Linked DNA regions of Homo sapiens: regions 1, 2, 3, 5, 6 and 7 are each reported to be linked to region 4. The links are microRNA targets in miRTarBase. Many come from high-throughput screens and were not tested one by one. Region 4 holds a microRNA gene; each other region holds the end of a gene's coding sequence. Distances are from middle to middle.

Evidence for each region. The annotated mature microRNA hsa-miR-515-5p reads UUCUCCAAAAGAAAGCACUUUCUG and lies in region 4 at 2,637-2,660, shown strand. An mRNA with a match to its seed (bases 2 to 7 or 8) in the 3' UTR can be bound and repressed. Matches are read on the target gene's strand: a 7mer-m8 pairs with bases 2 to 8, a 7mer-A1 pairs with bases 2 to 7 and ends in A, and an 8mer does both.
Region 1: the mRNA of CELF5 is a reported target of hsa-miR-515-5p. The part of its 3' UTR that is shown has no 7-base or 8-base seed match.
Region 2: miRTarBase lists FUT4 as a target of hsa-miR-515-5p. Seed matches in the 3' UTR shown: 7mer-A1 at 1,739-1,745 and 7mer-A1 at 642-648.
Region 3: miRTarBase lists ZNF138 as a target of hsa-miR-515-5p. Seed matches in the 3' UTR shown: 7mer-A1 at 3,268-3,274, 7mer-A1 at 3,163-3,169 and 7mer-A1 at 3,100-3,106.
Region 5: the mRNA of RPL32 is a reported target of hsa-miR-515-5p. Seed matches in the 3' UTR shown: 7mer-m8 at 1,747-1,753 and 7mer-m8 at 1,168-1,174.
Region 6: miRTarBase lists FZD5 as a target of hsa-miR-515-5p. Seed matches in the 3' UTR shown: 7mer-m8 at 339-345 and 7mer-A1 at 2,458-2,464.
Region 7: miRTarBase lists CMBL as a target of hsa-miR-515-5p. Seed matches in the 3' UTR shown: 7mer-A1 at 1,607-1,613 and 7mer-A1 at 2,920-2,926.

Annotation. Positions count from the first base shown.
Region 1 is chr19:3,292,134-3,296,829 of GRCh38, forward strand. It overlaps CELF5 (CUGBP Elav-like family member 5), which reads left to right. Exons shown (of 13, transcript NM_021938.4): 12 at 1,186-1,353; 13 at 4,625-4,696. The coding sequence ends at 1,313. It overlaps LOC105372244 (a long non-coding RNA gene), which reads right to left. Exons shown (of 3, transcript NR_187753.1): 3 at 4,632-4,696. Among named protein-coding and RNA genes, the nearest start is that of CELF5, 70 kb to the left of the region's middle.
Region 2 is chr11:94,545,232-94,548,231 of GRCh38, reverse strand. It overlaps FUT4 (fucosyltransferase 4), which reads right to left. Exons shown (of 1, transcript NM_002033.4): 1 at 1-3,000. The coding sequence ends at 2,506. PIWIL4-AS1 (PIWIL4 antisense RNA 1) reads left to right here. Exons shown (of 5, transcript NR_135093.1): 5 at 2,386-2,900. Among named protein-coding and RNA genes, the nearest start is that of FUT4, 2.8 kb to the right of the region's middle. RefSeq lists an enhancer at 2,060-2,734.
Region 3 is chr7:64,830,978-64,835,673 of GRCh38, reverse strand. It overlaps ZNF138 (zinc finger protein 138), which reads right to left. Exons shown (of 4, transcript NM_001271639.2): 4 at 1,994-4,223. The coding sequence ends at 3,472. Among named protein-coding and RNA genes, the nearest start is that of ZNF138, 39 kb to the right of the region's middle.
Region 4 is chr19:53,682,386-53,687,081 of GRCh38, forward strand. MIR515-2 (microRNA 515-2) reads left to right here and starts at 2,624; the gene lies at 2,624-2,706. All of the region lies in intron 2 of LOC107985342 (a long non-coding RNA gene), which reads left to right. MIR519C (microRNA 519c) reads left to right here and starts at 4,084; the gene lies at 4,084-4,170.
Region 5 is chr3:12,833,659-12,838,204 of GRCh38, forward strand. RPL32 (ribosomal protein L32) reads right to left here. Exons shown (of 4, transcript NM_000994.4): 4 at 827-2,565. The coding sequence ends at 2,436. CAND2 (cullin associated and neddylation dissociated 2 (putative)) reads left to right here. Exons shown (of 15, transcript NM_001162499.2): 15 at 97-1,145. The coding sequence ends at 324. Among named protein-coding and RNA genes, the nearest start is that of SNORA7A, 4.5 kb to the right of the region's middle.
Region 6 is chr2:207,764,201-207,767,200 of GRCh38, reverse strand. It overlaps FZD5 (frizzled class receptor 5), which reads left to right. Exons shown (of 2, transcript NM_003468.4): 2 at 1-3,000. The coding sequence ends at 219. Among named protein-coding and RNA genes, the nearest start is that of FZD5, 4.2 kb to the left of the region's middle. RefSeq lists an enhancer at 1-16 and a silencer at 51-110.
Region 7 is chr5:10,276,811-10,281,506 of GRCh38, reverse strand. It overlaps CMBL (carboxymethylenebutenolidase homolog), which reads left to right. Exons shown (of 6, transcript NM_138809.4): 6 at 875-3,912. The coding sequence ends at 1,054. Among named protein-coding and RNA genes, the nearest start is that of CMBL, 29 kb to the left of the region's middle.

The DNA of each region.
Region 1 (4,696 bases), 50 Mb from region 4:
ATGGGGTTTCACCATGTTGGCCAGGCTGGTCCCAAACTCCCGACCTCAGGTGATCCACCCGCCTCGGCCTCCCAAAGTGCTGGAATTACAGACGTGAACCACCACACCCGGCCAAAGACCAGACTGTTAACCTCACACTGTCCTGTTTAAAGGGTCAGCCCTTGACTTTGTTTTTTTTTTTTTTTTTGAAATGGAGTCTTGTGCCATCAGTGCGATCTCGGCTCACTGCAAGCTCCATCTCCCAGGCTCAAGCGATTCTCCTGCCTCAGCCTCCTGAGTAGCTGGGATTACGGGTGGACACTACCATGCGTAGCTAATTTTTGTATTTTTAGTAGAGACGGGGTTTGACCATGTTGGCCAGGCTGGTCTCAAACTCCTGACCTCAGGTGATCTGCCCGTCTTGGCCTCCCAAGGTGCTGGGATTACAGGCGTGAGCCACCACGCCTGGCCATGGGGTGGAGTATTTCTGATGGCCTCTGGACAGAGACTGGAGCAGAGGTACTGACAGAGATGGAGAGAAAGAGACAGAGATGAGACAGAAGGAGAGGGAGAGGAAGAAAAGACTCAAGCTAGAGAACGAGAGAAAGAGGGGAGGGGAGAGAAACAGAGACAGTTAGCTGGGCATGGTGGTATGGGCCTGTGGTCCCAGCTACTCAGGAGGCTGAGGCAGGAGCATCTCTTGAGCCAAGGAGGTCGAGGCTGCAGTGAGCTGAGATTGCGCCACTGCACTCCAGCCTGGGTGACAGAGTGAGATCCTGTCCCCACTCCCTTCTGCAAAAAAAAGAGAGAGACAAAGTTGTGGACACACAGTCAGCTGGAGACACAGATCCTGGCTGGACAGAGGGCTTGGAAGGAGGCAGGCATCCTCCTGAGGGAAGGTGGGGAAAAGGTGGCCCTCCAGGACCCTCGGAAGCCCCACCTGGCCCCTATACCAGCTGGGAAGTCTCAGCACAGCCGACCCCAAGATAAGGAGTGAGTGCCCCATCCTCAGAGGTATACAAGTCCAGAGGTGTCAGAACAAAGCCAGGGCTGCTGTGTGTCCTCCACCACAAACACCCTGGCCTGTGCAGGTGTGCACGCAGGCCTGCTCAGGACCCCGTGAGCCGGGAAGCCAGGGCCACAGCATAGGAACAAGCCGAGGACACCCGCAGCGCCAACCACGGAGGTCCACCCTGGTTTCTGCAGGCTTCGTGAGCTTTGATAACCCGGCCAGCGCCCAGGCAGCCATCCAGGCCATGAACGGCTTCCAGATCGGCATGAAGAGGCTCAAAGTCCAGCTGAAGCGGCCCAAAGACCCGGGACACCCCTACTGACCGCGCCCACAGCCGCCCTGAGGCTGTAGGCATGGCCCAGGTGAGCCGCCAGGCGGCCCCACCCCCGCCCAAGCCCCCCGTCTTGTCTGAAACCCCCTCCCGCGGCCCACTTCATGCTCCAAACCCTCCCCAGGTGGGGTGATGCTTCAAGAGGCTACAAGAAACCTCCGGGTTGGGTTGGCGGGGACAGAGCTGGATGTAGACACCCCCGATCCCCCTGTGGTTGGGGCTGGAGCAGAGGGTGGGAATGGGGTAGGGACTGAGGTGAGCCAGGGCCCAGTGAGGTCGGTTAGGGAATCCTTCCCGGAGAAGGCTTTGAGGGCTGAATAGAAGTTCACCTGAGAGGCCAGGTTTGCTCTGGGGGTGGGGGTGCGGTGGGGAGGGGGTTCTGTCCTGTCCTATGAGTCTGTTTTCCCTGCTGAAAACCCAACACCAGACGGAAATGCCAAGTGCCCACCCCAGACCCCAAACCCTAAGGTTGGACCCCAACTCGGAACCAGGAGTGGAGCGTGGAAGGTGGGGACAGTGCTCAGGGCCCAGTCCAGTTGGCACTGACAGCTTCCAGTGTCCCCGCTCCATTTCCACTAGTTCCCCTGGGACAAGCGGCCCCTCACTGGGTGTCATTCCTACCCAATGAGTTGATGGAAAAGTGGGATTCGTGCCCCACCCACCATCATGCAAGAAAAACAAGCAAAACGAAACCCAGACTGTAGTTTGCCATCAGGGCAAACCACTTTCTCAACATTTTTTTGTGGGGGGATGAACAGTAAACCTTGTGGGGCCACTGTGGAAACTTAACCGTGGGTCTCAAACCTTGATGAGCCTCATCTGTAAAATGGGTTCAAGAAAGTCATCTCCCCAGAGACGGCGGAAACGGTCCACCTAGGGAACAGAGTGGGGCATCTTTTCGCAGCCGAGCCCAGAACCCATCACCTAAAGAGTTCTGGATGATTCGTTTTGATTTTTTTTTTTTTTAAATCACCATCGCTGTCGTCATCAGAGTCTCGCCTAGGGCCTGGCACAGAGTAGACGCTCAGTTAGAAGCTGTCTGGCCTTTTCACCTTCTCCCGGGTCAGCACACACAGATTTGGGAGTATTTACCTGCACAGAACGCACCTTCAGGAACTGCCAACCAGAAGCAAAATCCAAAGCTGCTCTCTGCGATCCCTTCACTTTTAACTCTCAGTCTGCACTTTTTTTTTTTAACTGAGCATCTATTATGTGCTAGGCACTGTTCCAGTGCTCGGGGACGCAGCTGTGAATGAACAGAAACGGGGGATGGAGGACAGGGGAGAAACCCCCTTCACGGGCCTTAGATGGCAGGGGGTAGGGAAGGAGAGACAGAAAATAAACAGAAATATCTGTCCCCAGCTGCCAGAGGAGGAGGAAATGGGCTTGGTGATGGTGACATTAAGTTCTTTGAAAGCTGGGTTTGTTGGCCTCTGAACTCTGGCCTTTGTGGGATCTGTTCTTTTGGAAAAGATGGGAGCCCCTGTGTTCCTAGATCCCAGCCTGGCCGGGTGGAGTAGGGTGGGGAGGTGGTGTCCACCTGTGTGGCCCCGTTCTCACTCCCTAACGCCCGTCCCTTCTCCCCCAGGTGAGGGGCCTTCCCATCCCAGGAGGGTTTTCTGCTTCCAACCGATCCAGGACTTACCCATAAATTCCAACCGTTCTTTGGACACCAGCCCTTTCCTCCCCTCTTCTCCCCTTGCCCTGCCCCTCTACTGGAGGCCACCTGGAGTGGCGAGGGGCCTTTGGGGTCTGTCCTGGGGCAGGGGCGGGGGTGGGGGAGGCTCCTGAATCGTGGGCAGAAGTGTTCACACGCCCCCCCTGCTTTGGGAAACGCTCTCGCTTCTTCCCCACAAAACTTGGTGACTTCCCCAAACTAAATCACACCTTTTCCTATATATATATATATGCATATATATATAGATCTATAGACAGTATATATATATTTTGAGTACGGATCATGGGACCAAACTTTTCCGACTTCCTTCCATCCGAGTAGAGTGACCCTGGGCCGGTCACTCAGCGGGGGACACAGGAAGGGCTGAGGTTGGCGGGACCCCGCGCAACACATACCAGGTGCCCCACCCCCACCCCCACCACCTCCTGGCTGGCACATCCCACCAGGAACCCGCCAACACAACATACCTCCAGGACTTTTGGCACCCCCCACCACCAATTCTCCAGGGCCGTTGGGCTCTGCCAGCTTCAGTGTCCCTGGTCCCAGCTGCAGCCTCCAGACCCCACCTCGCCCCTTCGTCCCAGAGCCCTGCCCTCCGGGATGGATATAGGTACAACAGAGACGCTCTGGCCTGCCTCAGCCCTTCTCTGCTCCCCTGCCCGAGTCATAGCCTTACTCATGTGACCAATAGCCCTTAGCTTTCCGTCGGAGGGGGGGGGCGGACAGGGTTGGGGGGAGCCCCCCTGCCCCTCACCACCCCCTCCCAAGGCCAGGCAGCCATTGTCCCTGCCTTCGAATCACCAGCCTCGAATTTAAGGTCTTGTAACCAGGATTGCCAAGCGTAGCGGAAGACCCTACCCGGACCGGCCAAGCACCCCTTTAACTGGAGACGAACTTGATAATGACCTTCATACCTCTACAGAGATTTTTTTTTTTTTCCGGTCTTTCTGAGCAGGTACAAAGAAGAAAAGAGAAGAAAAAGATGGGGGGAAAAAATCAAACCACAATGGATTTTTGTTTCCTAGTTGGGAGTGGGGTGGGGTGGGGTGTCTTTGTGAGGGTGCCTCTGTACAGCTGCCCAATCCGCGACACCCACGTCAAAGCACAGCATCAAGTTCGTTTGGACATCCGGCAAGGCCTCTTACCAAATGAGGCGCCAGATAACTTAATAAGCTCAAAAGAAAAAAACATTTAAAAAGAAAGAAAAAAAAAAAAAAAAAAACCAAGCATTTCCTTTTCTTTCTACCAAAATGTGTTGACTGACCCGGAGGGGGGGCGGTAGGGTGGGGGAAACCACACAGAAAAAAAAAAAAAAAAAAAAAAGAAAAGAAAAAAGAAAAAAAAATAGAAAAGAAAAAAAAAAATCTTCTGAACCAACTTGTTTCGATATTCCAGAGTTTGATAATTGTTTCGAGACTCTCCTCTAGCGTGCCTGTGTTCCGTGTGTCCCCGTGTGCAAGCGTGTGCCATGCCAATCTGCCTCGAGGGGGCCTCACCCGTGTCCGCGGCGCCCGCCGAGGCCCCCGAGGGCCTGCTTGGGAGTGTGTGCCGGTGTGCAGTTGTACGTGTCTTTCTGGTCCATGTTTACTGGCTGTAAATACCATTTTTATACTCCACATCGCAGACCTGCGTGATTTGTACAATGTACTTTATTTCTGCTACGAGTAATTTCATGAAGTTTCAACTTGCAAACTGA
Region 2 (3,000 bases), not on the chromosome of region 4:
TCATGCTAATTATTCCATAAATAATATGGTTAGTTCTAAATGGACTTAATACTAAAAAAAAATTGGTAAAATAATAGATACCAATTTATAGAGCTTTACCAAAACGAACCAAAAAAATATTTTCAAAGAAAGCCTAGGTGCTTCTTCCTAGTTTGCAAGTCAAGCTTAATCTAAATGGTGATTTAGATTATCCTTTTAATTTATTCTACAACATACCTTAAGATATAATTTTAGACCTATAAATAGATATGAGGACATCCTGAAATCACTGCAAGCAAAGAAGGAAGATATAAAATCATCAATTGGGTGCCTGCTATTTTAGGTACTTTCACTTACTTCCTAAAGTGCTCAAAATGAGCTTGTGAAGTATTTTCGCCAGTCATTTTATAGATGAGGACGCTGAGGCTCAGGACTACTACTAATTTACCCAATGTCACATAGCTGGAATTCAAATCTAAACTAGGTTACCTTCAAAACCTGAACTCTTTCCCACTGCCCCATGTGGAATCCCGGTAACACCAAGATCACTGACTGTTATCTCATAAAAACTCATTTTAAGAACTGAACTTTTATCTTTATTCGGTGGCTGGCACTTTGTAATTGTAATTCTGCCCACACTTTAATACTTTAATGAGGACATTTTCTCCACAGCTTTTCATTTGTCCTCTCAAGAAAGTGAATTGAAGCACCTAGATTTAAGTGAGCTTTTCAAGTATGTCTGCAAAAACATGTACAGAGAGGTAAAACTTGCTTTATGATTCAGAGAACTGCACTAATCAAATGCAAAATGACTATTTACAGCAGAACTCTGTATAAAACTAGTTAATCTTGACCCTACCCACAATAATTAGTCACTGAGGGTCCTTATTCTAATAAGTGGAGGAGAAAACTCCCATTATTTCAGGCTTTAAGTCAACTAGCTTTCTAATATTGATTTATGGTATCATTAAGACTGTCACAGTAATCAAACAGGTTCTGCCAATTGTTTTATCAGTCACCATTTACTTTTTGGAAGTGATAGATTGTAAGAGCCCTAAAGAGAAGGACTTTGCCTTGTATAATTCTCTATCTTCCCTAGGGCCCCAAGCTCAGTGTCTGGCAGAGTAGGCATGTAGTGGCACCTGCTGAATATGCTGCTTACTCAGTAACTTGTCAAGTCAATGCATGTATGTTCAAGATTGGTTCCATAGCACAGTCTCAAGGGCACTAGAAATGTGAGGATATGCTATACCACTGCATTGACTGTGAGGGGAACCTGCTGGCACCAGGGAGAAGCGCAGATTTAGCCTTTAACAAGAGACAGAGTAAGTTAATAGTAGGCACTAATGTAGTTCTGAGGATCTAAACATTTAACTAAAAACTGTCAGAGATAAACAAAAACTGCCAACAACAGATATCATGAAACTTTTTTTCCTTTTGCATGATTCCATAATGTAGTGCAATACCTTTCACTGTTCTGCAGAGGGTAATGCCAGCACTCCTGCAGGACTGGCATTGCAGTTTAAATTTCAGGTCCAGTAAAGACATGAAATAAATAATTGTGTGGAAGTGACACTATGGCTTCCTTCTCTTCTGTCTGTAAACACAGACTGGTTTTCTGGGAAGAGGGAAAAAGGTTGCTTCTGCTTTATTTTCACATCTGTAATTTTAATATGATTTAAAAAATCCAGGTTATAGAAAAACATAAAGACAGAAGAAACAAATTAGGAGATGACTATTCACATTGTAAAGGGATAAATTCTCCATAGGGTTTCATTAAATACTGAACTCCCCTAAGTCAATGAATTTGGGACTTGATTTAAATGCAGCTTTTCAGGAATACATTTCTTATGTAAAGTGAGGTACACGCATGTATTCATCTTAAGTTTCCTCCAAGGACAATCCAGCACTTTGCTTCCATTCACAGGACAGGGGAACAGATAGTACTTGTGAAAGAAGTCAGCGGCCCCTCTTGGACTGCCCTCCTCACCTTTCTCAGGAGCCAAGGCTGTGAGGAATCCAAACAACAAAGTCCCACCTGCAGCCACAGTCCTTCCACTCTCCACCAACAAGGCTCCTTCTACAACCACAAATTTGCTTCACCTTGGTCCAGAAAAACGTGAATCGGGAACAGTTGTGTATGAGATTTGGAAGCTGCACGGGCCACAAATATGGCCTGTGGCAGATGGGGAAATTCAGGAAACCGCCTCAACGGCTTCTTGCCGCTAAGCTATTTCATTTCTGCACTGGTTACAAGGTGAGGAAGAACCCCCTCCTTCACCCCTAAACAATGATGCCCATCAGCAGCAAAGGGAGCCCAATTGCTAGCTGTGCAAAAAATATGGAAACCGGGCCCCCATCTCTGTGCTGAGTAATATTAATTGGTAAATCGTTTTTTTCCCATAGAGCAAAAATGGGTGTTTGAAGAACTTACTCCCATGATGCGGCAGTCAAGGAGATGCACAGTAGAGGATCAAAAAGCTGACAACTTGGCCTCCCCTGGGTCGCTTCCAGGGGAGCGCGGCTTCACCGCTCGAACCAGCTGGCCAAGTTCCGTATGCTCTTGGGCCGGTCCCCAGCCCTCTGTACAGCCTGGCACACCCGGCACCAAGGCTCGTCCCAGAAGGAGGTGATGTGGACAGCGTAGCTCCGGCGCCAGTGGAAGTAGCGGCGATAGACCGCGGGGTTGCGGTCGAGGAAAAGCAGGTACGAGGCCAGGGAGGAGGCACTTGGGAAGTCGTCCACGTGGATGAAGGCGCCGCGGGGCACAAAGCGCTCGTAGTTGGCACGGTCTGGGCCCAGCACCACCGGCACCGCCCCAGCGAGCAACGCGTTGCGCCAGAGCTTCTCGGTGATATAATCCAGGTGCTGCGAGTTCTCGAAAGCCAGGTAGAACTTGTAGCGGGCCACTGTGTGCAGGAGCCCAATTTCGGGCACCGGCTGCCCCGGCCCGCCCCGGCCGAACACGTCCACGGTCACATGTTGGCTCAGTTGGTGGTAGTAGCGGACCCGGGCCTGGCG
Region 3 (4,696 bases), not on the chromosome of region 4:
TTGCTTACAGCAGAAAAAGGAGGGACATGTTTATTCTTACAGGAAGAATGCTGCTATTATCTCAACGTGTCAGGGGTAGTTGAGACCAATTTACAAACTTTAAAAAAAAAAGATCCAAGAGGAGTTAAAACATTCCTAGGACCCTCTCCACCCTGGTCCTTCTTGGTGGTTTTCACCTGTGGTTCAACAGATGCTCCCTTTCCTTATCCCAATTATAATTCTCTGTATAATAATGTGTTTTGCCCCAATCCTAGTACAGTTTCTCCGCCAGCGGATACAAGAAATCACCAGGGTCACTTTCAACCAGATGTTACTTCACCCCTACGTCCAACTGCCAACCTCTGATTTAGGCCCTCTCCCCAGTGACACCCCTTAACAGCAGGAAGTAGCCAGATGATTTCGTCGCCCCTTTTCTATAACCAAAAATAGGCTGGACTGATTGGACTCCAGTGAAGACTCCAAGATGGCGATCACCACCTCAGATACCCCGACTCAGCATTTCCGGGTTCACCTTTCCTGTTCCCGTCACCCCGACTAACGCGCATGCCCACTAGGGCGTGTCACACTCAGAAGTGTGAAACTCAACCGACCCCGCCCCTACCCTGCCCACTCCTCACCCAGCATCCATAAAAGCGCGCTGCACCTTTGGCACAGTGCGACTTCCCTGGCCCTCCCCCTGTGGACCAGTGAACCTCGCCCGAGAGCTCAATAAAGATTTTTGCCCTCTTTGTCTCGCCTCTTGGCCTTATTGATCCACGGTGCCCTTCCATTGCCTTTCAAACTGTACTGCATTTTATTACATAAAAGTACAATTAGTAAAATTATATACTAATTAATTTTAACTAAAATTATTTTGTTTGGAGTATAACGCAGAATACTACTCTGAACACTTACCTCATACATCACTCAATATTATAAATTAAACACAAAGAGCCTCTCCACTTAGACTTTTGTCATGCATCCTACATTGTAATGTCTTTACTCTTCCATAGAAAAATTCAAAAACAATATTGACATAACAAAAAAGAATCTCTCATACCTTTGATGCAGCAACAATTGATCACATGCTTTCACTAGTGAATGCAATAGGAATGAAGAGCATGAAGTAATTTGAGTTGAATTACATTATTCACTTTTCATAAATTCTGCAATTTTTTTCAAGGAAAAAAGTATACTTTGAATGTAATTGTAACTCTGCAAAAATATTTCTACTTCTTTTAAAGTTATGTACAAATAATTTATCTACCCACTTTAGTTTTGGGTTATTTTATATACTCAGCACATTTACTTAGTGCAATGTTTGAAGTGTCAGTGCCTTAGATATTTTTACTGTGAATTCTCTGATACTTACGTAGCCTTATTTTTGATTTTTTTTATATTTACTGCATGTGGAAAAATATAGTTTAGTATGCATCCCCTGGTGTTTTCTAAGATGTAGTTTTTGAAAAATTTTTGAAATGTATTACATTTGTAGTTTTTCTCCGATATAAATTCCCTGATGTTGAACGAAGTTTGAGCAACTGCTTCGGATACAAAATGTGTACAATAAGATCTGTGATACAAGTAAGGCAGGCACTACAACCCTCTTTATGTTTCTAATGTTTGTCTTCAAAATAAAAACTCTTTTTTTACTTTAAAGGCTTATATTGGCTGGGAACAGTGGCTCACACCTGTTATTCCAGCACTTTGGGAGGCAGAGGTGTATGGATCATTTCAAGTCAGGAGTTCGAGATGAGCCTGGCCAACACAGTAAAATCCTGTCTCTACTAAAAAATACAAAACTTAGCCGGGCGTGATGGTACATGCCTGTAGTCCCAGCTATTCTGGAGGCCCAGGCAGGAGAATTGCTTGAACCTGGAAGGCAGAGGTTACGGTAAACCAAGATTGCACCAGTGCACTCCAGCCTGGGAGAGAGTATTACGTAGTCTCATTTAAAAAAAACAAAACAAAACAAACAAACAAACAAACCACACACTAAAACAAAACCTTATGCTGAGTTTTGACAGTAATTGCATTTATAATGCTTTTATTAAGTACTAACTCTCTAATGTTGAATAAGATGTAAGCACATATTAATGGCTTTTCTACATTCTTTATATCAGTACAACATTTTCTGAAGTATAAATGCTTTCCTGTGCAATAAGGTATAGGAATTAAAGTTTTGCCATATTCTTCACACTTCTGGGAGTTTCTGCCAGTATGAATTATCTTACCTACAATCAAGTGTGACAACCATTTAAAGGCTTTGTCACATTCTTCACATTTTTATAATTTCTTACCAGTATGATTTCCTTTATGTTTAGAAAAATTTGAAGGTTTTGTTAAAATCATTTTCACATTTTTCTGGTTTGTAACATTTTCAGTATTAATTTTGTTTAGTAAGATTTGAGAATTGGTTAAAAGCATTACCACATTCTTCATATTTGTGGGGTTTCTCTCCAGTATGAATTATATTATGTGCAGAAAGGGTTGAAGACTTGTTAAAGAATTTACCAAATTTTTCACATTTGTGGTGTTTCTCTCCTGCATGAATTTTAGGTGTAAGAAGTTTTGAGGATTGTAAGTTTTACCACATTCTTTGAATTTCCAAGGTTTTGCTCCAGTATAAATTATCTTATGTATAGTAAGTGTTGAGACTTGGTTAAAAGCTTTGCCACATTCTTCACATTTGTAGAGTTTCTCTCCAGTTTGAATTTTCTTATGCATAGTAAAGTTCGAGAACTAGTTAAAACAACTGCCACATCGTTCACATTTGTAGGGTTTCATTCAAGTGTGAATCATCTTATGTATAGCAAGTTGTGAGAACTGGTTAAAAGATATGCCACATTCTTCACATTTGTAGGGTTTCTCTCTAGTATGAATCTTCTTGTGTTTAGTAAGGTTTGAGAGTTGGCTAAAACCTTTGCCACATTCCTCACATTTGTAAGGTTTCTCTCCAGTATGAATGATCTTATGTGCAGTAAGAGTTGAGGACTTCTTAAAGACCTTGCCACACTGTTCACATTTGTAGGGTTTCTCTTTACTATGAATTTTCTTATGTCTCATAAGGTGTGAGGACTGGTTAAAAGCTTTGCCACATTCTTCACATTTGTAGGGTTTTTCTCCACTGTGAATTATCTTATGTGTAATAAGAGTTGAGGACCAGTTAAAGGCTTTTCCGCATTCTCCACATTTGTGGGGTTTCTCCCCAGTATGAATTTTCTTATGTGTACTAAGGATTGAGTATCGGTGAAAAGCTTTTCCACATTCTTTACATTTGTAGGGTTTTTCTCCAGTATGAATTAACTTATGTTCAGTGAGCTTTGCGGACTGGTTAAAAGCTCTGCCACATTCTTCACATTTGTGGGGTTTCTCTCCGCTATGAATTATCTTATGTGTAATAAGGGTTGAAAACTGGTTAAAGGCTTTGCCACATTCTTCACATTTGTAGGCTTTCTCTCTAGTGTAAATTTTCTTATGTTCAGTAAGTTGTTAAGATAGGTTAAAAGCTTTGCCACATTCCTCACATTTGTATGGTTCCTCTCCAGTATAAATTATCTGATGTTTAGTAAGGGTTGGGGACTGCTTAAAGACCTTGCCACATTGTTCACATTTGTAGGGTTTCTCTTCAGTATGAATTATCTTATGTCTAGTAAGGTGTGAGGACTGTTTAAAGGCTTTGCCACAGTGTGCACATTTATAGGGTTTTTCTCCAGTACGAATTATCTTATGTTTAGTAAGGATTGAGGATTGGTGAAAGGCTTTTCCACATACTTCACATTTGTAGGGTTTTTCTCCAGTATGAATTTTCTTAGGTTTAGAAAGGTTTGTGGACCAGTTAAAGGTTTTTCCACACTCTTCACATTTGTAGAAATTCTCTCTAGTATGAATTTTTTTATGTTGAGTTAGGCGTGAAAGCATGCAAAGTGATTTGTCACATTCTTTACATCTGAAATGTTTATTTTCAGTATGTCTTATCTTGTGTCTATTTGAATTTGAAAATTTATGCATGACTTTTACATATTTATTACATTGAAATATTTTGCTTGTGGTAATTTTCAAACATTGGTTAAGTCCATTAAAACCTCCTTGGTGTCCCTTACACTCATCCACACTTTTACAGCCTTTTCTTAACTGTAAATTCTTATGTCCATATTTTCCATATCTGCTCAGTGTCACTTTTTGGAAAGAATCTTTTATGTTCTGCTCTAGCCAAAGGTCTTGGGCAAAACGAGAACACAGAGCTGAAAGAAACAAAAAATAACAAATTACTCCACCTGCTAGACTCAGATGAATATACTTTACAAATCTAACCTATAAAATCATACAAACTACATAAGCAAGATGGCATAGCAAAATACCACAGGTTCTAATTCCTTTATAGACATATAAATGTAACAAAAACATACCAAAACATATCTGTGGAGAATAAATGAGTTAAGTGTGTGCAGTGCCCCAGGTTTGCACAATGCAAAGAGCCACACAGAAGAGAGAGAAAAGTCTGTTACATTTACCCAACACAGCTCTTTCTGTTCCCCGATATAACATAGTGCCTCTAGAAGTAAACTGCCAACTCTTGGTTTCTTTTTCAAAAGGCAAGAGAAATAATAACACATACATCTTTATTTCTGGCTTCTAGGTGCTTTTGCAGACACTGGTTTCTGTTTCCCATGACATAAAGTGCTGAAACAAATGGCAGGATACTTTGGAATGACAA
Region 4 (4,696 bases):
TGACACTTCAACCTACATTTCTTGGGCTCCGGTCGTTTTTGTTTGTTTGTTTGTTTGTTTGACAGGGAGTCTCACTGTGTGTCTCAGCAATGCAGTGGCACTATCTTGGCTCACTGAAACCTCAGCCTCCTGAGTAGCTGGGATCACAGGTGCGTGCAACCACGCCCATCTAATTTTTGTATTTTTTGCATTTTCAGTAGAGACGGGGTTTCACCGTGTTAGCCAGGATGGTCTCGATCTTCTAACCTCGTGATCCGCCCGCCTCGGCCTCCCAAAGTGCTGGGATTATAGGCGTGAGCCACCGCGCCCGGCCGAGAAACTAATCTTTTGAGATGAACTCTGAGATGTGGATTTTAGCTTGTTTGCAGCCACCACCACTCTAGTTTTGGAAGATTTTCATCACCCCGAAGAGGCTTATACTCATTTGCAGTCAGTACCCACCCACCTCTTCCACCCAGACCGTGGCAACGACTCCCCATCTCTCTAGCTCTGGATCTGCCTCTTGTAGGCCGGTCACGTAGACCAATCTTGTATGGGTGTCCAGTTGAGGATAATGGGTTGGTCCTGGTTGTCTGCAATGTGAATCTTACCACTGAAGGGTGGTCCCTGGAGGGAAGCAGGAGGCTGGGAGAACTGGGCGGAACATCCTTTGGGAATGGAGTGGGGCGGGCAGACCCTGATGTCTGGGAAGCTCACAAGGGTGGAAGACCCCATCTTCCTCCCTGAGAACTGCAAGGTGACCCTCCTGGGGCACTGGAAGGAGTGAAGGCCTCTGGGCTGGGAACGTCAGGGCACTGCACCGATGCAGGCAGGATGAGCCGAGGGGAAAGGAGAAGCAGGCATCATTCTCTGGGGACATTTTGGGTTTGATCTGGATGGAGCAGGTGTCTTCTGGGAGAGAGAGCCCCTGGGATTTTCACTCTGCTCCCTGGCTGTCTTAGTCATGGAATCTGACAACAGAGACTCCTGCCCAGGGCCACTTCATTTGGTTTCTGGAGCCCAGTGGTCCTTCCTGCCTGGACTTGGGATCTTTTGGGGAAGTTTGGGATCTGGCTGGGCGTCTGCATAATCCATAGAAATCCCTGAGAGTCACTTCCCTTGGCTGACATCTCCATGTTCCTTACCCATTACCTTCCAAAGGAGACCCTTATCTGAATTACCAAAGGGGGCTTCCCAGAGCAGGGAAACCTGGTTAAATTTGTATTTCAGATTAACAGTATACTTGAGATGTACTTGAAGTAGAAATGATTGGCTGTGGGTGTCGGCATTTGTTTTTTCTAATTTTAAATATGGGACCATCATGAATTTGGGTGTCACTTTGTGCAGGGGACGTGGGAATCGCTGTCATTTTTTTTTTTTTTTAACATATGCTGCCAGAGAAGGCACTTAGGTGGAGAAATTACTCTTCGTGTGAGCATTCAGTATATAGAACTTCCTTTTCTGGGGGCAGTGTCTTATATATGATACACATTTTATCATATCATCTTCTATAGATAATATAATGATTAACACAAAACACTCTTCTACACACACAGAATACTCTTGTATCACTTTGGGTTTTTTTTCCTTCGTGTGTGTGTGTGTGTGTGTGTGTGTGTGTGTGTGTGTGTGTTATGAGACAAGGTCTGGCTCTGTCACCCAGGCTGCAGTGCAGTGTTGCAGTCTTGGCCCATGCCCCACCGCAGCCTCTGGAATAGCTGTCTGCAGGCCAGGCACGGTAGCTCAGGCATGTCGTCTCAGCACTCTTGGAGACCAAAGCAGGCTAATCACCTGGAGTCAGGAGTTTGAGACCAGCCTGGCCAAGATGGTGAAACCTCATTTCTACTAAAAGTACAAAAATTAGCCGGGCGCGGTGGCTCACGCCTGTAATCCCAGCTCTTAGGGAGGCAGAGGCAGGAGGATAGCTTGAGCCCAGGAGTTTGAGACCTGCCTGGGCAATACAGTGAGACCCTGTTCTCCACAAAAAGAAAAGAAAAAAAAGAAAAAAAAATTTTAAAAATGCAAAATTAGGTGGGCATCGTGGCACGTGCCTGTAATCCCAGGTACCCCAGAGGCTGAGACAGGAGAATTGCTGGAAACCTGGAGGCAGAGCTTGCAGTGAGCTGAGATCACGGCCCTGCACTACAGCCTGGGCAACAAAGTGAGACTTGTTTCAAAAAAAAAAAAAAAATTTATTGAGGAGCTTTTATGGCCTAGCCTGTGTTCTATCCTGGAGAATGTGTGTACAACAGTGTATATTCTTAAACATCATCTTAGATTCCATTTTGGATGCTTGCATGGGGACTGTGTGTCCCTGTACTGGGACTTATGTGAACACTTGGCTTCAAATCCATTGCTGTTCTCTAGAAATCCAGCCCAATTCTCATGGTTAAATATAAGGTATGTGTGGTAGGCATTGCTTTTTCTCTTTGGGGACAGAACTCAGGAGGATTGTCTCTTGATGAACAAGGCTAACCTGCTGAGCCTTTGAAGCAAGGAACTGGAGATGGTCCTTTTAGGGGTTTATATTCTGGATTCCAGAAAACATGCAGAGAGAGTCAATAAATGTATCTTTATTTTTGTGTCCATTTTAACCAGGTGAGGAAAATTCCGTCAAAAAACCCAGACTTTTGGAGCGAGAAGATCTCATGCAGTCATTCTCCAAAAGAAAGCACTTTCTGTTGTCTGAAAGCAGAGTGCCTTCTTTTGGAGCGTTACTGTTTGAGAAAAACCACGTTGAAGTTGATGCTGATCTTGGTAACACATTTGCAGAGCGTGCTTATCATCAGACTTGCATGATGTTGGGGTTCTGTTTTTGTTTAGTTGTTTTGCATCATGGGGTCTCTGTTGCCCAGGCTGGAGTGCGGTGGCGCTTCCAACCTAGATCTCTTGGGCTCAAGTGGTCCCGTGCTTGCTTTTTTTTTTTTTCTTGAAACAGAGTCTCTGTCTCTGGCCCAGGCTTGAGCGCAGTGGCATGTTATCTGCTCACTGCAACCTCTCCTCCCAAGTAGATGGGATTACAGGTGCACGTGCCACGACGCCTGGCTAATATTTGCATTTTTAGCAGAGATGCAGTTTCATCATGATGGCCAGGTTAGTCTCCAACTCCTGACCTCAGGTGATCCGCCTGCCTCAGCCTCCCAAAATGCTGAGATTATAGGTGTAAGCCACCCAGCCTAGCCTCCAATTTTTTTTAATGTGTGCTGCCAATGCAAGCACATATGTGTAGGAATTATTTTTCATGTGAGCACATAGTATATGGAACTTAATTTTTATTGATGTACGGTCTCAAAAATATATATTTTATCATATTCTTATTATACATGTAACATAGTCATATACACACAAAACACTCTTCTATACACAGAGAATACTCTCGTATCACTTTGGGTAATTTTTTGTTTGTGTGTGTATGTTTTTGTTTTTTTTTTAGATAAGGTCTGGGTCTGTCACCCAGGCTAGAGTGCAGTGGTGCCATCTCAGCTTATTGCAACCTCCACCTGCCACTTCAGCCTCTTGAGTAGCTGTCTACAGGCGCACACCACCACGCCCGGCTAACTTTTCTGTTTTCTCTACACATGAGGTATCACCATGTTGCCCAGGCTGGTCTCAAACTCTTGAACTCAAGTGATACTCCTGCCTCAGCCTCCTAAAGGGCTGGGTTTAGAGGTGTGAGCCACCACACCTCACCTGTACCTGTGTGTTTCTGCTCATTTTATTGAGGAGCTTTTACAGCCTGGCCTGTGGTCTCTCCTGGAGGGTGTTTGTGTGTGTGACAATGCATATTCTTCAACATCGTAGATTCCATTTTGGATGCCCCCGTCGGGACTGTGTGTCACTGTACTGGAACTCGAGTGAACACTTAGCTCAAAATCTATTGCTGTTCTCTAGAATCCAGCCCAATTCTCATGGTTAAATATAAGGTATGTATAGTCGGCATTGCTTTTTGAAACAAGGAACTGGAGATGGCCCTGATAGGGGTTTATGTTCTGGATTCCAGAAATCATGCAAACAGGGCCAATAAATGCATCTTTATTTTTGTGTCCATTTTAACCTGGTCAAGGAAAATTCCAACAAAAAATCAATGGTGCTGGAGCAAGAAGATCTCAGCCTGTGACCCTCTAGAGGGAAGCGCTTTCTGTTGTCTGAAAGAAAAGAAAGTGCATCTTTTTAGAGGATTACAGTTTGAGAAAAGCAACGTTAACGTTCATGCTGATCTCGGCAATACATTTGCAGAGCGTGCTTATCATCAGACTTGGATGAGGGTGGGCTTTTGTTCCTGGTTTGTTTGTTTTCTAAGACGGGGTCTCTTTTGCCCAGGCTGGAGAGCAGTGGCACTTCCAACCTAGCTCTCTTGGGCTCAGGTGGTCCTCTTTGCAGGGTCACGATCTCTGCTCACTACAATCTCCCCTTCCCGGGTTGAAGTGGTTCTCCCATCTCAGTCTCCTGTGTTGCTGGGAGTACAGGCCCATGCCACCACGCCCGGCTAATTTTTGTATTTTTAGCAGAGATGGGGTTTCACCGTGTTGACCAGGATGGTCTCCATCTCCTGACCTCGTAATCCACCTGCCTCGGCCTCCCAAAGTGCTGGGTTTACAGTCATGAACCACTGCACCCGGCCTTTGATCTTAATTTTCAATATGAGACCCATCATGAATTTGGGCATCACCTCTGCACAGGGGCCATGGTGATCTCTGTCACTCCATTCATTTCTTAT
Region 5 (4,546 bases), not on the chromosome of region 4:
ATGATGGGGCAGAGAGGAAGCCAAAGACCAGTGAGGAGGCAGTGGTGTGGGCCAGGCTCAATAAAGGATGGCTGCTTCTGCTGTTTCCTACTTTAGGTCAAAGCTGGTTCTGTGAAGCAGGAGTTTGAAAAGCAAGATGAACTGAAGCGCTCTGCAATGAGGGCAGTGGCTGCCCTGCTGACCATCCCCGAGGTGGGGAAAAGCCCCATCATGGCCGACTTCTCTTCCCAAATCAGATCCAACCCTGAACTTGCTGCCCTCTTTGAAAGCATCCAGAAGGATTCCGCTTCAGCCCCCAGCACAGACTCAATGGAGCTCAGCTAGTCCCCTCAGCACCAAGGTGGGCCCTCGCTTAAGAGAAAGGAGCCCACCCAAGTCCGAGGCCTCCCCATCCCACCATCGCAGGTCTCTACTTTTGCCCTTCCACCATCTCACTGGGGGCCCTGTCGCTCCTGGTCAGGGCTTACAGTGCCTTCTCCAGGGACCCAACTCAAAGGCCCCCAGCCCAAGCTGTGAGGCTGCCAACAGTTGGGCCCCTTCCTTAACTCAGGACAGTCATCCAAAGAAATAGGGTGAGGAAGTTTTCCAGTGACTTCACACTGTACCCCTCCATAGTCTGTCTGGTTCCTTCAGAGGGTGTCTCTGCCTCACAAACTAGTAGTATTTAGAAATAGGCTGTGCTGTCAGCTGTAAAAGATCAGGAGGCAGCAGACACCACTCTGGTTTCTTCACTGCATTCAGCAATGCCTGAAGTTAGTGCTCAGGCCGGGCATCTCAAAAGAAAAGATACTTGAGTTATTCACATTTTAAAATTCAAAACGGTTCATTTTTAAGTGGCAGTGATGAATCAGAAATTTGGAAGATGATACGGGTTTCTTTTTTCCAGGGAGGAGGAATGGGTTGGGTAGGGAACTGGACAGGCTTGGACCTCATGTTTCATTTCTAATTTCAAAATACTTATTAGCAAATTGGGCAACAATGGGCATCTTCCATGCCACCACCCAGGCATAACCAGTTGGTTTGTTTCCTTCTGAGGAAGGTTTCAAATGTGTCTAGTGTTCAGTATTGAGGACAAAGAAATACAAGTGGCAGGCCCAAGTATTTTCTGTGATATCCCAGGTTAATAAAGATTAGATTCTAAGTTACTTCTTTCCTCTGCACGACTCGTCTCCAATTGTTAATCGAATCGCCTGAACCCAGGAGGCAGAAGTTGCAGGGAGCCAAGATCAAGCCACTGCACTCCAGCCGGGGTGACAGAATGAGTCTCAAAAACAAAATCCCAAAAATGACCAGTTTGCATTATAAATATTTATGACTAGGTTTTGAACAGGAGACAATCTGTAAGATTCCTGTCTAGACTAGAAGTAGAAAAGCTTTATTATACCCAGCGCAGCATTTCTGCTAAGTTGACCAGGATGGTTACAGAAAAACATCCTGTAAGCATTTCTGTCTCATAAGTACCACATCCCATATCCCTCATGACCTATATACTACAGAAGATGCCTGTAATCCCAGTACTTTGGGAGGCTGAAGCAGGATTGCTTGAGCTCAGGAGTTCGGGAGCCTAGGCAACATGGCTAGACCACCTCTACAAAAAAACTTCAAAAACTACCCAGGTTTGGAGGTGTGCATCTGTAGTCCCAGCTACTTGGAAGGCTGAGGTGGGAAGATCACCTGAGCCTGGGGAGGTCAAGGCTGTAGTCAGTGTGCCACTGCACTCCCAGCCTGGGTGAGAGCAAGACCCCGTCTCCAAAAAAAATCAGGACCACGTGTCACTAAATTCTGAGTACCAGTCAAGAGGCTCAATTGTCACCAGTTAGGTCCCCGCCTTGGCAAACTGCTGTAACATTATACCTGAAGCAGCAGCTGGTGGGAGGGTTATAGGAGACTGAAAGTGCTTTTCCAGTTAACCGTGGTGGATTACCTGGAAGAGCAATTTGTACATCATCCTGTTCTTTTTGGACAGAAGTTACAGGATGCAATTTAGGCATCCCGTAAGAATCTGTGTAAGAAATTCATCTGGATATTTCCATGCATATTTTCTCAATTCTCACAAGCATCACATGGAATAACTTGTCACCTAACTTTACAAAAGCAAGGCTAAGAATGACTACTTGTGGCTTGGGAGCCACAAGCTTCTTCAAGTGTCTCAGAACCTACCTGGTGTGAGGGCCAAGTCTGTACCCCTCATACCCAGCCTCAACTGGAGATGACTAAGGCTAGTCTGTGCACTTGAGGCCACATTCCCCTGTTCAAGGACTGAGTGTCCTTTACAAATCCCCTCCAAATGGGAGATTCCAAAGGGGCTTAAGCAAAAGAACAATCTCTGTGGCAAACTAAGTTGGCCAAGAAGCTGAAGACTTAAAATCAAGGAAGGAAGATGCCAGATGGCAGTTTTTACATTTATTTAAACAGAAAACGTGCACATGAGCTGCCTACTCATTTTCTTCACTGCGCAGCCTGGCATTGGGGTTGGTGACTCTGATGGCCAGTTGGGCAGCTCTTTCCACGATGGCTTTGCGGTTCTTGGAGGAAACATTGTGAGCGATCTCGGCACAGTAAGATCTGCAAGAGAATCAAGTAGGTAAGGAGCAAGACAGCCCTCAACACACTTGGAAAATTCCATTGGAGAGGCAATGAGTCCCAGCACCAAGCTAAGAGAGGGCTGCTTGGTAAGTGGCTGTGGAATGACACCTACATGCCCCCAAATCCTGACTATGGTTCCCTGGTGGTGACAAGAATGCTTTCATTAAAAAGTACCCTCATTGTCCCCTCTCATCCTTATAGCAGCCTTGTAATCCAGGCATTACCTCCATTTTACAGATAAAGAAACCAAGGCCCACAGCAAGCAATGGACAGGGATCCGGGGCGAACCCAGGCCCACACTCCAGGTTCAAAGGTTCTCCCCCAGTCACAGGGTGCTTGACCTTGCCCATGAAGGTTCAGAACTCTTTGCAAAATGGTCAAGAGCAGAACCCAAGAGTCTGAATGGAGCCAAGAGCACCTGGTTTGACTGCTGAGGATACAAAGCAAGTTGAGAAGCAACAATGCTTAAAGTCACCCAGTCATAGCCATGCCTATTACCTGAGGACTTCAGATCCAGTTCTAACTCATTCCTCACAACTTTTTAAGAGGCAGCTACACTGTGCCCCATTTGATAACCAATAGGCCTAACAAGCACACTTCAGTAAGGAGGTGATTTATGAAGCCACCCACAGTGGTTAAGAACAGACATTCCACCCCTAAAGCATTTTCAGCAAAGAGAGAAGCAGCAGGACTGTGAGGAGTGATTGAGGCAGTGGACACACAGCTCTTTTCAAGAACCCTGCCTTAACAGCAAGACAGCAAATCCAGACAATTCTTGTTTTATATGAGTCCACTCAAATTCAAAGCAATTGTATTTTTAAATGTTTCTACGTTTTAAAGACTTAGGTTATATTACACTTCTCATCTGTCTTTACTTTTCAAAAAACCCTCCTGTCCTTGTCCATCTATATATTTGATAATCACAATCAGAGTGTACCCACCATTTTAAATGTGTCCCCCCTGGCTTGGGCATTTTCCACACTACAACACTCGAATCATTTTGAGTGGACCCACAACATTTTATCCAGCACTCTACAATTCTCTCATTATATTTTCAGTTGTTTCCAGTGGGTTATTGCTGCAATGACTAGCTTTAGTTTGCCTGCTTTTCCATTCCTTAAGGACAAATGCCCAGAAATGGAACTTAGAGATCAAACGTCAAAGAGTATTTCTATGGATCTTAAAGACTGCCAAGCTGCGCTTACAGAGCATATGCCAACCAGCCAACATGTGCACTGCAACTGAGTAATCATGTTGGCCATACAACAGGTATTGCCTGTTACAGTTCAACTCATACAGCCAACTGTGGTTTCAGTATCCACCATTAATTCCTTCGCCCATCTTTTCTAACAGAAATTTTCAGCATTTCAACGCCTGGTTAAATTTCCAATCTTGGAAGGTAACCACGTTAGAATACTGGTCTTGTTCATTTTTATTACTTGTATCTACAACCACTGTAGGTGAAAGTTATCTTTGTAAACGTAAACACAAACATCCTAGTTAGTCACACACACTCCATGTTCTTTCTAGTTTACTTAGGAAAATTCAGCTTTTTGGCTTTCATTTACCAGTAAGTGAAGAAAATAAACTGTCACTTCCCATGAGAATTTTTCATTCCACTGCCCTAGTTTTAATCTAAGCAGGTCACTGAGTCTTTTATACACAAAGCTCACCAAGTGTCTAACTTACTCAAAACACCTAGAACTAGCTGGGTGTGGTGGAGTGTGCCTGTGGTCCTAGCTACCAGGAAGGCTGAGATAGGAAGACAGCTTGAGCCCACCTTGAGTTTGGGGCTGCGGTGTGCCATGATCACAGCTGTGAACAGCCACTGCACTGTAGCCAGGGCAACACAGAGCCTGTCTATCTCTAAAATCAAACCAGGCCAGGCATAGTAGCTCATGCCTGTAATCCCAGCATTTTGGGAGGCTAAGGCAGGCAGACCGCTTAAGGTCATGAGTTC
Region 6 (3,000 bases), not on the chromosome of region 4:
GGCATCACGTCGGGCGTCTGGATCTGGTCGGGCAAGACGGTGGAGTCGTGGCGGCGTTTCACCAGCCGCTGCTGCTGCCGCCCGCGGCGCGGCCACAAGAGCGGGGGCGCCATGGCCGCAGGGGACTACCCCGAGGCGAGCGCCGCGCTCACAGGCAGGACCGGGCCGCCGGGCCCCGCCGCCACCTACCACAAGCAGGTGTCCCTGTCGCACGTGTAGGAGGCTGCCGCCGAGGGACTCGGCCGGAGAGCTGAGGGGAGGGGGGCGTTTTGTTTGGTAGTTTTGCCAAGGTCACTTCCGTTTACCTTCATGGTGCTGTTGCCCCCTCCCGCGGCGACTTGGAGAGAGGGAAGAGGGGCGTTTTCGAGGAAGAACCTGTCCCAGGTCTTCTCCAAGGGGCCCAGCTCACGTGTATTCTATTTTGCGTTTCTTACTGCCTTCTTTATGGGAACCCTCTTTTTAATTTATATGTATTTTTCTTAATTTGTAACTTTGTTGCATTTTGGCAACAATTTACCTTTGCTTTGGGGGCTTTACAATCCTAAGGTTGGCGTTGTAATGAAGTTCCACTTGGTTCAGGTTTCTTTGAACTGTGTGGTCTCAATTGGGAAAATATATTTCCTATACGTGTGTCTTTAAAAAAAAATGTGAACAGTGAACGTTTCGGTTGCTGTGACTGGGAAGTTGTTGGGTGTGCTTTTTCAGCCAGCTTCTCCTTCCACTGCTTAAAGTGTCCATGATTCTTTAAGGTGAGCTGCAGTTTATAGCCCCAGGTCATACCTAGGAGGGGAGCATAATGAGCTCAGGGCCTCCCCAAAGTGACAAGGTTAGGGAGTGCTTAGCGGTTTTGTGTTCAGCCTTAGCTTTGTTTATAGAGGGAGGTTCAGTTTCTTTTCTGTAGTGCTTGTAATAATTCTCACTCCTAACAGCACCATCGTTGTGTCTTGAATAAGTTAGAGGTAGCATTATAGAGGATCTGGCATAAATATTTGCAGTAGTGAGAGCCTAAGCGATGGTGATTGGTGGAGCTTGAATTTTAGGCTGGTGAGATGGCAGCTTTGTGCCTGAGAGGTAGTGGGTGGTTCTTAAGCTTCAGTGATCCCCTTTTTTTTTTTTTTTTTTTTTTTTTAAGGAACTTGTGTTATAATTTTGGTAAAAGTATAAACCCACTCCCTCTGGACAATACTTAGCGACAGTTGCTAAAGGGGGCTCCTTTTTAAATGTAAGGACTGAAATGGATATACTTCTAATAAGTAAATTTCCAACACTTATTTGCTCCACCCCCTCCCCCCTCCCCCCTCCCCCTTTATCATGTTAAACAGCCTTTTTGCTTTTCTTATTCCTCCTCTCCTGGAGAGCTGTGATTAGAAACCACACCCACCCTTGAATGAAGTGCTTGAACTGGGGGAGGGAGGCTGGCTACCTGTGAACAAACATTGGCCCAAATAAGGGAAAATAAGTGTTCCTGGACTTTGGACTAGTTTATAGCCAGATATTCCAAGAGCAGCAAGACGTTGCTCTCTGCCGTCTCTGAAAACAAAAGAGATGCATAACATGCTTGCACAACCTTTTAAAATATAGATCAGTATAGTGCTACCTCTATAGTTTTCTTCCTCTTCTGAGAAAGCCTGTATATTGATGATCACACACACACACACTTTGCAATTAGAGAATTTGGTTTGCTTTACTAATCTGTTTAACTATTCCTTCATTCATTATGAACGCTTATATTGATGAACATACACACAGAGGTTTCTTTGCTATTAGAAAATTCTGTTTGCTTTCCTAATCTGTTTAAGCATTCATTCATGAAGAGTGTGGGGCCATTACTGGGGAAGGGGGGTGACAGTGCCTCAGCCAGCAAAATACCAATGACCAGGATTGGGGACTAAATTTAGGAAGCTAAAATGGCCAGAGCAATTAACATTTGAGAAAATCCTGTCTAGGAAAACAACTTGAGTGTAGGCATTTGTAATTCACTTATACCAAAGTTGGAAAAGTAAAATTTAAGCCTAGGACAATTTTTACTTCATGGATGTTAAATAGACAAATGCATAGTTCCCAGGGGGAATTTAAACACTTTACTGGTGGGAAGAAACCTAGTATTAAAGTTGTAAGGACTCTCAAAAACTTCACATTTATTAAAATGCACTGCTCTTACCCAATTTATCCTCTGAATTAAAATTTCAGTGGATTCTACAAAACCTCGTACAAATAGCTACAGAACTTTGTGCCTATTTTATTCCTCTATTTATTCTTCTAGGAAGAAGCCTCTTCCTAGAATCTTGAAATAGATCCCTTGACTGAATGCCAATTCCTCTCCTGTTTTTCAAATGAGAGAACCTTTTCTGATCACCTTGACCTTTTCCCTCATTTCATATGTCTTCCCAGAAAGTAGACAGACTGCTCTGCTGCCTTCAGTCATTGTGCCTCATTTGGGTTGTCCCTCCTTCTTTGTGGAGAAATCTGGAAATGATGCACAGTGTATCCAAAAGTTGTGGGATGAAGTGGATGAAAGTGATTTAATTCATTTTTAGAATTTTTTTTTGTTTTGTTTTAGCAACATGCTGAACAACTAATTTACTTTAAAAATAAGCCAGTTAAAACAAAGGACGCTAAGCCCAAGTGGGGGGCAATATTAGTCAGGATCTTTGGGGTCTAATTCCAGACCAACTTTCAGAAGCACTTCTTTGTCTCTGTTCTCACCTCTGCTGTCCCTCTCTTCCCTCATCCCCTAAGAGAGACAAAGATAAAAGCCCACCTGCATCCCTAAGTCTTACTGAGATCAGCCACCCCAGGGGAGAGAAACTGGATCTACTTACAGCCACCCCCTGTTTCCATCCATATAGTTACTTCCCCCAATTTGCATGTGATTATGGAAACAAGTCATGCTCATGAAAGCAACTGTAAAATAAAAGGTTATGGAGTAGTTCAGCAACTTCTTCACAGCCAGCTTTGTGGAGCTGGGGAGGACTTAGGGCCCATTGGAGTCTCTTATGT
Region 7 (4,696 bases), not on the chromosome of region 4:
GTGGCTCATGCCTGTAATTCCAGAAACTCAGAAGGCTGAGGTGGGAGGATTGATTGAGGCTGAGAGTTTAAGACCAGGCTAGGCAGTCTAGCTAGATCCCTTCTCCACAAAAATATAAAAAAATTAGCTGGGATGGTGGCACACATCTGTAGTCCCAGCTATTTGGGAGCCTGAGGCAGGAAGATTGCCTGAGCACAGGAGTTGGAGGCTGCAGTGAGCCACGATTGTGCCACCGCACTCCAGCCTGGGTGACAGAGTGAGACCCTGACTCTTAAGAAAAAAAAGCAGTCATTTAGAAATTATTGTTATAATATTAGTAACTAATATATTAATGCAAGTGATTTCAAATAATAGATGTATCATTTTTCCATTTCCCTGAAATCTCTCCTTTGCCAGACATAAGGACTGTGTTAGTTATAAAATTAGCAGTAGAGGCCGGGCGCCGTGGCTCACGCCTGTAATCCCAACACATTGGGAGGCAGAGGCAGGCAGATCACTTGAGGTCAGGAGTTTGAGACTAGCCTGGTCAACATGGTGAAACCCTGTCTCTACTAAAAATACAAAAATTAGCTGGGCATGGTGGCGGGTGCCTGTCATCCCGGCTTCTCCGGAGGCTGAGGCAGGAGAATCACTTGAATGTGGGAGGCAGAGGTTGCAGTGAGCTGAGATGGCGCCACTGAACTCCAACCTGGGCAACAGAGTGAGACCCTGTCTAAAAAGAAAAAAATTAGTGGGAAAGAATTCAGTGTAACTGTGGAACTTGTTTCTGATTTAAAGCATTGATGTTAAATTTCTGTTATGAACGCTCACTAAAGATTTGGAGAATGGAAAGTATCACTAAAGGGTTAAAATCATGAAATCTTTTGCACACCAGGTATCTTTGCTGACTCAGAAGTTGAAAGAACACTGCAAAGTTGAATATCAAATTAAAACATTTTCTGGGCAGACTCATGGGTTCGTGCATCGGAAGAGAGAAGATTGCTCACCTGCAGACAAGCCCTACATTGACGAGGCCAGAAGGAATTTAATTGAGTGGCTGAACAAGTACATGTAGCAAGAATCAAGGGCAAGCCTTCCTAGAATAGCTTTCATCCCAAAATTTGCTTGGAAATAGTTAGATCATTTGATTTAATTTTCACTTTTATAAAATAAGTGTAGGAATCCTAAAATTGATTATTTCATTTGAAACACAAATTCAGTAGGACGTAATGCATGAAATAATTTAATTTTTGACATGTACATCGAATCATAATTTAAAAACAAGGTCTGACCAGGTGTAGTGCCTCATGCCTGTAATTCCAGCACTTTGGGAGGCCAAAGTGGGTGGATCACCTGAGGTCAGGAGTTTGAGACCAGCCTGGCCAACATGGTGAGACCCCATCTCTACAAAAAATACAAAAATTAGCCTGGTGTGGTGGTGCACGCCTGTAGTCCCAGCTACTTGGGAGGCTGAGGCACAAGAATCAATAGAACCCAGGAGGTGGAGACTGCAGTGAGCCAAGATTGTGCCACTACTGTACTCTAGCCTGGGCAGCAGAGTGAGACCCTGTCTCAAAAATAAATAAGTAAATAAATAAATAAATAAAATAAAAACCAGGTCAGTACCTGGAGAATTTGAATGATAGAGAATGATAGAGTAATACCCTAATTATTAGTTAAAACCTACAGGCCGGGTGCGGTGGCTCACGCCTGTAATCCCAGCACTTTGGGAGGCCGAGGTGGGTGGATCACTTGAGGTCAGGAGTTCAAGACCAGCCTGGCCAACATGGTGAAACCCCATCTCTACTAAAAATATAAAAATCAGCCGGGCATGGTGGCATGTGCCTGTAATCCCAGCTACTCAGGAGTCTGAGGAGGAGAATCACTTGAACCTGGAGGCAGAGGTTGCAGTGAGTCGAGGTTGCGCTACTGCACTCCAGCCTGGACAACAGAGGGAGACTCTGTCTCAAAAAAAAAAAAAAACCTACAGCTGTTCAAGGACCAGCTGACAGGTCAAGTGTGGCCTTTTCTGGTCTTTGAACACATCATAGAAAGTGACAAATGCTGCAAAGCCATGAAGAACATGAACTATAAACGGGTAGACTAACTGCCCAGCTTAGACACTTATCTATGCCACAAAACAGCTGAATTTGTCACATTTATATATTGCAATATGGGAAGTATTGAGATCAAAACAGGATTCCATTGACCTAATTATATTAAGCTAATAAACTAATTTTTTGAATTTTTGAATTTGCAGCTTTTTTAAAAAGATAGCAGAGAACGGTGGGCTAGAGTTGTCACCCAGCTGTTGTCTCCTAAGCAGTGGATTTCCAAGCACTGGCATTTTTGGGTCCCAGGGCCTGAGGCTACCTCAGAAATATCTCCTGTGTTTCTGGTGGTGGCGTAAAGGGGAGAGCCGGTGAGAAACTCTGCACCTGCACCTACGGGGTGCGTACATGTGACTTTGGGCAAGTGACTTGATGTTGTAGTTTTTTTCCTAATTTTGTCTTGACGTCCTTCTCAGGAGAGAGTGGCTGTAAACTCTAGCCCTGCCCTGACGGGGATCCTGGGGATGTGGTCGTGGGTGTTTCCCATGTGCCTTTCATGGGATCCTTCTTTGACCTCACAGACGGCCTGATTCCTGAGTGTCCAACCTGTGGCCAGGTGTCCCTCTCGCAGGAAGCTTGTTTATCCTGGCACATGACCTTGTGGCTCTCATCTGACCTGTGTCCAGTTTATTCCTACTGAGACAGCCACTCTCCCGGAGAGCCCTGACCGGGAAAGAAGTTAGGATGGGGTAGAGGAGGCAACTCATCAGAACCCAAGAAATGACAGAAGCAGTTTATTGCTTACAGATCCAGAGAACAGAGGGCAGCACGCTTCACAGGGCCAGCAAAAAGGGGGAGCCATTCAGGACACATGGGCTCAACCAGAAGGTGGAGAACGAGAGAGAGAGGGAGCTATGAGCCAAAGCCTTCACTGGGGCCCAGGGTGTCATCTATGCAGGTTTCCCCTGGAGGTTCTAACTGGGGGGTTTAGAGCAAGCAGGCATGAGCCCCGGGGACTCACGCTGTGACTGAGAGGGGTCGGTGTGGGTAGGATATCGGCATGGTCCATGTGGGTGTGGGGGTCAGTGGGACAAGTCAAGCAGGTGGTATCCAGCTGTCCATGGGAAGGTGGTCCCAGGAGGCGGTTTTGTAAGGCAGATGTCTGGATCGACCACCTTGGGGAACAGTGAGAAGTTGTATAACTGGAAACTGTGTTACTAATCCCTGCTTCTAGTATGAGAAAGTCCAACTTACATTCAAATAGATGCTCAGGAAACATAAAATTCAAAGAATTCCCAAACTTGAGCTTCCTGAGCCTCAGTTTTTGCATCTGTCAAATGGGTATGGGGAGACCCTTTGCCTAATGTTGAGAGAATCCAAGCCTGAGCAGGGCTGGTCTACTGTGGACACTTAGTTGTGGACCCCAACAGGCCAAAGCCCTTGCCTGCTGAGGGCTGCTCCCAGGAGGCCTCACACATTCATCCGGCCTCCCAGGAAACCCCTGAGATGTGCTGGGCTTTTGCCGTGGAACGGTGTCGGTGAGCATGTGGCCAGTAGCCAGAGTCTTCAACATAGGTGGGAGGTCTGAAATTCGTGCGAGAATGAACCAAGGGTGTGGCTGTATCCTTCATGGTGAGCTTGGGGCCTGGGCAGCCTTCCCTCTGCTGAGTCCTTTGGTCAAATGTCATGGTGTTCTGAACCAGCACTGCAGATAGAAGTATAATGTAAGTCACACACGTACTTCTTTAAAAAGATATGTTCTTCAGTGACTATTAGACAAACAGATAAATGAAGGTAAAGGGAAAAAATGGCAACTTTAGCTTTTTTCCCCATGTATGTAATTTTAAATTTTCTTATAGCCCCATTAAAAAAAGGAAAGAGACACAAGTGAAATTAATTTTAATAATGCATTTTAGCCCAATTTATCACAAATGTTCCATCAGTGTGTAATCAATGTAACGAATCATGAGTGAGATATTTTGTATTTTTTTTTTTTTGTTCCTCTATCTTTGACATCTGGTGTGTATTTTCTGCTTACACATATCTCCATTTGGATGCTAACTTTTCATCAGAAGTACTTGATTTGGCCAGGCACAGTGGCTCATGCCTGTAATCCCAGCACTTTGGGAGTCTGAGGTGGACTGATCATTTGAGGTCAGAAGTTCAAGATCAGCCTGGCCAACATGGTGAAACCCCATCTCCACTAAAAATTCAAAAATTAGCTAGGCATGGTGGTGGGCACCTGTAATCCCAGCTACTTGGGAAGCTGAGGCAGGAGAATCACTTAAACCCGGAGGTGGAGGTTGCAGTGAGCTGAGATGGTGCCATTTTACTCCAGCCTGGGCCACAGAGCAAGACCATCTCAAAAAAAAAAAAAACAAAAAAAAGTACTTGATTTATGTTTAGATTTCACAAAATTTACAGTTGAGAAAAGTAGATTTACATATTTAAGTTTTCCGATAACTGAGTCTAGCATCAAAAGTCATTTCCTTTACAGTTCACCTCCCACATTGACAAAACTGCTTCATTTGTTTTAGAACAATTGATTTGACTTTGAAGCAAAAGCGTATCCGTTTCAAAATGACGTCAATCTAAATTAAGTGAATTTACTGGCTTTTGTGTCACTGTCATCTCAGTGCTGACAGCATCGAGGTCAGAGGGTCTAG